2 linked regions of the Homo sapiens genome follow. The protein of the gene in region 1 interacts with the protein of each later gene in a pairwise test. Each region holds a gene or a part of one and is shown on either strand. Other genes may lie near its edges.

Region 1 (3,819 bases):
CCGGGGTTAGTTCACCCCTGCAGAACAAACATTCAAAGGAGGCAAGTTTCACTAAGATAATTAACCCTGGTCATCGCAGGGTGACTCCAAAGAGAATTTGGGCTGGTGCATTCCGATGCACCTTGACCGTCCCATACCAGAATTGTGCCAGGTGCACCTGGAATTTTCCAAGACAGATGTGAATCTTAAGGGGAGTATTTTGTCCTCTTGTGAGGAAAAGTACTTTAAAATGTGCAAAACTGAGGAATCAGAGCTTAAGGAAGACTCAGACCCCATTCTGGCCAAACTTGAAAGGCTGATCTTGTTGCTAACTTTGATTGCCACTTGCTATCCCACATGAGCATCAACCCAGAGTTCTCATAGGTGTTGGTGATCTTGTTTGGGAACTTGGTTTTCACAGCAGGAACTGATTACTTAGCAAGTGCCCTAATTGAAGAAAACACATTGCTCCCAATCTCCATTGGCTTTTGTGAAAAATCTGGTCCTGAGCAGTTAGACATCCTCCTTTCCAAGCTTTTTATAGAACACAGATTAATCTTTAAGCTCTGCTTCTGATGTTGCCCTTCTTTACTGAAAACAATTCTGAATCATTAGTGTAATTAAGAAAATACCGTCTGAGGCCATTTTTATTTTGTATTTGCATATGACACCAAAGCTGCAAAACAGGAACTAAGCATGGTAATAATGCTGGTCCAAAGGTGGCCAGGTATGAACACTTCCTTCTAGGCCTGCTGCCAGGAGGAGAGCTGGCTTATTGATGGGAGCATTGTATGCTGCTGAAACCTCCTTACTTGGGGGTTCTCCCCAGAGACAGAGAAGAAAACCTAAGGCAGGCATTAGTCTTGGAAACCAGTACCAGCTAGTATCTCATGCCAATGAAAAGCATCCAGGACAAGCATGTTTGCAAAAAACAAGCATGTCCTGTCTCTTTCACATCTCTGGCACATCCATGATCACCCTGAGTCAGACCCAAATAAGGGGCAGCAGAGACAGCCAGATGAAGCAGCAATTTGAGGGTAGTAACTGGTGATGACAAAGCCCTTCTCAATTTTACTTTATTAACTTAGCCAAGGCTTAGTTCCTGTTTTGCAGCCTGATGGAAATTTAATAGATCATTTGAAGTATGTAATCACCTGACATGCTAAGTGTCTGTGTGTGCCGGAGACACAGAATGGCAACCTGACCCCACCCTGTCCTTGTCTAGGAAACACGCTGGAGAAGAAAGGTGGCAAGGAGTTTGTGGAAGCTGTCCTGGAACTCCGGAAAAAGAACGGGCCCTTGGAAGTAGCTGGAGGTGAGGTGGGAAAGCCACCGTGCTTATCTGGTTGTGACACATGCAGTATTAGGAAAGCCATTTTGTGAGAGGGCTTAGAATTCAGAGGTGTGTGGCAGCACAGCCGCATCTTCAAGATGGAGGCCAAGGACAGCCTGTAGCTTTACATCTTAGAGTTTCACCACATGCAGGTTGTCTGGGAAAATCACCTTTGCATTTTTTTTTATTACTTAAAATAGCTCCTATATGTTTGATGTCTAGATCACAAATTTTAAGAAATTATAGGAGCTGAGTTTGGTACATCTAAGAGCTGAGAGTGAGTGATACTGAGCCATCTGCAAAACTGCTGGTGAGAGATACAAATTAAAAATCTTCAGCCATCTGTGTGTGTAAGAGGAAACATATAAATACACATTTCTCATTTGCCAATTACACCTTCCCTGGTATAAGGGGAAGAAAACGACTTGGCATCTGATGTGGGGAGAATTATTGCTAAGACCTGGAGGCAGGGTACTTCTTACTGCTTCAGGCCTGAATTTAGGTGGTCATTTGGGGTGTGCAGGACAGAGCACCTCCTAAGGACCTGAGAGTCCAGTCAGTGGGGAGGCCCAGCTCCCCCACCAACTGTGTGAGGACAGATCACCCACTTCCTCACTTGGGGCTCTGGTTTTCTCTTCTTACTACCCGATTCCAATGCCTATTGTGTCTTTTAAATCCTCTGTTTTAAAAATGAATCTTAAGCTCTCTCGGAGGGTCCACCAGGCCGTGCACCTCTATTCCCAGTGACAAATGACACCCCTTCCAGGCTAGTCTCAGGATCCAGTAGGATTCCCTTTGCTGATCTGTGCCTTTGACCTCTGCTCTGCCACTTCTGTTTTACCTGCAAGGGGCATGACATACAGGGTAGTAATTATGAAGTTCTCCCAGGCAGTTCCACCAAAGTCCCACATTGTACAAGGGAAGGCATACACAGTTTTAACTACCTAGCCAGGGGCAGCTGGCCTTTCCCCAGGCCCTTTAAAACACCTGTTTGACCAGCCTGTGGGTCCTTTCCCATCGGGGTTCCAGCTTGAGTCCTGCTGGTAGCCCTTGGCACAAGGCCTGGTAGGCAGCCTGGTGCTGCCATGTACCAAACTCTGCTGGGGAAACCTCAGCCACAGCAGATGCAAACCCATTAGGTATAGCATGGTTCAAGATATTTTTGCTTGTTTCAATAACACTTTTGTTCTTGATTTTAAGGGCTATTTTAGAAACTGCTTTAAAATATTTTTGAAAGTATAAAGAGGTGAATAAAACATACTCCTGTTCCACTGTGCAAAGATAGTCACTGTTAATGTTTCTTTCCAGTCGTTTTCTATGCATAGTTTAGCCATGACTTCTCATGGGGACAAACCCACTGGTTTAATTCAACCCCCAATGTCAGGTTTTTATAGGTCAGCCCAGAGTTCTCAAGCCCAGTCACAAAGCAGAGCCAGGACTCAAATTCACACCCTGTGACTGAGCTGTTTCCACTGTACCATGAGACACTACCCACAAATCGCTCCTTCTCCAGTATCTATGACACGACCATAACAAACCATACCCCTTGGACAGATATTCCTTAAAAAAAAAAAAAGTTTCAGAAATAGCCAACCAAATACAAAAAGTTTGGATGTTTTACTTTAGCAGTGGTGTGGAGACTCTGGTGTGCTCTTGTATAGAAGCGTAGCATGCAGCTAAACCCAGTGCCCTGGAAACCTTCTTTGCAGAGCATCTGTGGACAGGGGTTCTGGAACATGCTCTGGGAGACATGGTACTTTGCAGTTTGTGGCAGACCCCAGGCCTGTGTCCTTAGATCTGGCAAGGGAAAGGCAAGTCTTTGGTGGAGATGTATAGCTAGAAAGGGGCCCCTCTTCTAGGAAAAGAAAAACACAGTTCCTTAAAAACTAATCTAATTCTGCCACAAATAAACAGGATCCGTTATTCACACAGTGAGGCCATCCTCAGCAGGGAGAAGACAATGGCAGAGTGGAGATGCTGGTCAGGTTGCTTAGCAGATCATTTAAAGCAGTTGCTTTCCTAGTAGCTTTGTCCTGAATTGGGTTTGGGAGATTTAGAGAATACATCATAGTAGAGACAAATACATCATATTGGTGTGCAAGTCGATAATTAGCACACCAGTCGACTTGAAGAAGAAGGGTTGGAAACCCAAAACAATTATTTTGAGGCTGCAAATGTTCTGACACGTTGAGTTTGCGTTCAGTTGAGTTTTGATGGATAAGGCTCTGCCTCTGGGAGAACCGTGTATGCTTTCTGAGAGTGGAGAGAGGCTTACTACGAACTTGGTCAAAATTCCTGGTGGTGACACATCATAATGCCAACTTTCCAAGGGTGTGGCTTGGCTCCAGCTCACGTTGGAATCACAACGCAGCAGACAGCTGTGGAACTCCTCGGACACAGGGCATTGGAGGGCCCAGGAAGATATACCGTGGCAGGGGAGTGGGTCTGTGTTTGGCATCTTGTGCTTTGCAGTGAACCAGAGCTCACTGTTTCTGTTTCATCCCCGC
Region 2 (3,461 bases), on another chromosome or scaffold:
CACACCACCTCTTCCTCCCTCCCTCCCTCCCCACACACCACCTCTTCCTCCCTCCCTCCCTCCCCACACACCACCTCTTCCTCCCTCCCTCCCTCCCCACACACCACCTCTTCCTCCCTCCCTCCCCACACACCACCTCTTCCTCCCTCCCTCCCTCCCCACACACCACCTCTTCCTCCCTCCCTCCCTCCCCACACACCACCTCTTCCTCCCTCCCTCCCTCCCCACACACCACCTCTTCCTCCCTCCCTCCCCACACACCACCTCTTCCTCCCTCCCTCCCTCCCCACACACCACCTCTTCCTCCCTCCCTCCCCACACACCACCTCTTCCTCCCTCCCTCCCTCCCCACACACCACCTCTTCCTCCCTCCCTCCCTCCCTCCCCACACACCACCTCTTCCTCCCTCCCTCCCTCCCCACACACCACCTCTTCCTCCCTCCCTCCCTCCCCACACACCACCTCTTCCTCCCTCCCTCCCTCCCTCCCCACACACCACCTCTTCCTCCCTCCCTCCCTCACCACACACCACCTCTTCCCCCCTCCCTCCCTCCCTCCCCACCATCAGAGAACACGGAGTCACTCAGATCAATTTGCAACACATTCATTTTATTATCTTCAGAATGGCAAGCACCCCGCTGGTGAGATCTCTGAGGTCTGGCGGCTGGGCCTGAACTTAGTCGGTGCTCTCGGAGACAGGGGAAAAGCTGGCCATCCACACAGTCAGTGGTTCTTCCACCTCGCTCTCCTGACTCAGTGGTTCTTCCACCTCGCTCTCCTGACTCAGGGGGTCGTGCTGGGTCCCCTCGCTCACTGGCTCCTCCGGCGGCAGCTCGTGCTGAGGGAGCTCCTGGCTGGGCTGGTCGCTGGGGCCGGGTGCCGCTGGCGCGCTCTCCGCCTCAGGTGCCGTCACGGCCGCCATCTTTGTCGCAGCCCCTTTCTTCCCGCGTCTCCCTCTACGAACTGCTTTTCCCTTCTTGGCCACCTTGGTAGTCTGGAAGGACAACAGGGAGATCACAGAAGGGCTCTGGTTTAGGGACGAGGATGGAGGAGGCTGGGAACAGGGACGTGTCCTCAGAAGCGGTGGGGGCCGGGTTGGGGGGTTCTGCCAAGTGACGACAGGAGAGGCTTCTTGTGAGGAAGGAGGCGAGGGGAAGACGAGGAGGAGCTTGGGAGGGTCACTCACCTTCTTCTTCGGGTCACTGGGGCTCGGCTGAGAGGAGGACTTCCTCTTTCCTGCCTCCGTGGCCTTGGCCGGAGGTCCCGAGGCTCTCGGCTTTGGACTCATCTTCCGCAGCTCAACGTCTCGCAACGGTCGACTAACTCCAGGCTGCCTGGCCTCCCTGTATATACCCCTCTCGCGATCCCAGGACGAGACAATCACGCCCCTGAGCTGTGATTGGTCAACACTCCACTACCCAGCCAATGGTAGCCCTGGGCGGGAAGGAAGGCCTTATACGTCACAAAGCACCATCAGGACATGGCGGATGAAGTCGGGGGCGGGGGGGGGGGGTGACATCTAATGAGGAAGGCAGGGTGCTCTAATTGGAGAAAGGGAGATTTGGGTTAGCACCCCTAAAGATAGTTCCCAAACTGACATGTCACCCCTCCTAAACTCCCCATGTTCAATTTTGGCAGATCACGTGGCACGGGAGGATATTTCCGCCACATGTTTCCCCCGGACCTCCCATTCAGTGGTACATTCTGTTCCTCCACACCTGCCATCATTACCCAGTTTCTGTATGACCTATCTAAAATCCCTCCATGCTAACTGGGATGGATGGAGGGCTATACGAAGACGTCAATCATCCCTCTCTCCTACAAATTCCTCTGCTACACCTTGAGGATCATTCACTTCTTGGATGCCATGAAACAACTTTTCCATCTCACATACTTCTCCCAGCATCCACATAGTGCCTCACAATTTTTCATTCTCATGGTTTAAAGCACTGGCTTCCAGAGGTCAAGATCAGCAAACACACTCGCTCAGCTGGGTATCGGTATCAGGCTGGGTTTCGGTATCAGGCTGGGTTCCTCAGAGAAGGAGAAACTAAACCAACAGGATATTGTGTGTGTGTGTGTGTGTGTGTAATATTATATATCATAAATATATATTTACTATCATGTAGTATTTATGAATTATATATATGATACAGTTTATTCTAAGTAATTGGCTCACACATTGACTCAATGTGGGGGTCTAGGAAGCTGAAATATATAGGGCAAGTGAGCAGGCTGGAAACTAAAAGCTTCTGCACAGCCAACAGTCAACAAAATGAAAAGGCAGGCTATGGTTTGGGAGAAGCTATTTGCGAACCATGTATCTAATAATGAGTTAATATCCAAAATATATAAAGAACTCACACAGCTCAATAGCAAATAAATAAATAGTCTGGTTAACAAATAGGCAAAGGACTTGAATAGGCATTTCTAGAAGGAAAACACACAACTGGCCAACAGGTATATGAAAATGTGCTCAACATCGTTAATAATCAGAGAATGCAAATGAAAACCACAATGAACTATCACCTCACTGTTACACGCTGTTGACAGACGTGTAATTGGTACAGCCGTTATAAAAAACAGTGTAATGGTTCCTTGGAAAATCAAAATAGATCTACCATGTGACCCAGCAGTTCATCTGTTAAGTATGTACCACCCCCCAAAAATGAAGTCCACATCTCATATAGATATCTCCAGTACTAACTAATTGTAACTCATTAATTACACAGGAAATTAGAGTTTCTATTTGAAAAGAATGTTTTTTTCACCATTCTGGTATCAAATATTTATTCTAGTCATCTCTTCTTATTTCTTGCTTTGTAATAACCTAGGTACTCACTACCCATTGACAGAACCAACTTATTATTCCAACAAGAAATGAGAAATACTGAGGAGAATGCAATGTGATACTTCTGTCTTCAACCAGTTATTCCAGTTTTATGGAGGATTCTGTATTTAACTCTTACTCAGGTAACTCTAGTTACCAAATCCATAGTACCTAGTCAACAATCCTAAAAAAGTAAGAATACAGAATTGACTCGAATGGTTACTAAACTTTCTATGTTCAACCAGTTTTCCTAGTAATTGCTAGTTGTTTGTTCAACTAGTACTGAGAAGAATTTGTTTATTCCAGGTACTGGCTTCATGTAGTTATCTCTAGTTAATTACTCACTTGGATAAAGTAGATATCTACTATATTAGGTAATATTTCTAACATGAGGTTGGAATTTTGCATTGAGGAAAATGGTTATTGAACTCCCTGGCATAGGCCAGTTATCTTCAGCTTCCTGCAATCAATTACCTGGTCTGGCTAATTCTAGCTATCTTTAGGTTGCTAATTACATGTTTACCACCAGATGTCTGTGGTAATTTATTATTCCAACAAAAAATAGTAGAATGATTAGGAAGGATTTTGCTTTTTCCAGGCATCACATAGATATTCAAATTATCTCCTGTTA

Evidence for each region.
Region 2: the proteins of MACROH2A1 (region 1) and VCX2 interact in a two-hybrid assay, tested with the Homo sapiens proteins (one large-scale study listed by BioGRID).

Annotation. Positions count from the first base shown.
Region 1 is NC_000005.10:135,343,443-135,347,261, reverse strand, and holds part of MACROH2A1 (core histone macro-H2A.1), read left to right. Parts: intron 1-1,204; coding exon 1,205-1,294; intron 1,295-2,581; exon of another isoform or gene 2,582-3,819. UniProt on the Homo sapiens protein: Variant histone H2A which replaces conventional H2A in a subset of nucleosomes where it represses transcription. Nucleosomes wrap and compact DNA into chromatin, limiting DNA accessibility to the cellular machineries which require DNA as a template.
Region 2 is NC_000023.11:8,169,356-8,172,816, forward strand, and holds VCX2 (variable charge X-linked protein 2), read right to left. Parts: upstream 1,913-3,461; 5' UTR 1,752-1,912; intron 1,435-1,751; 5' UTR 1,289-1,434; coding exon 1,187-1,288; intron 995-1,186; coding exon 677-994; 3' UTR 589-676; downstream 1-588.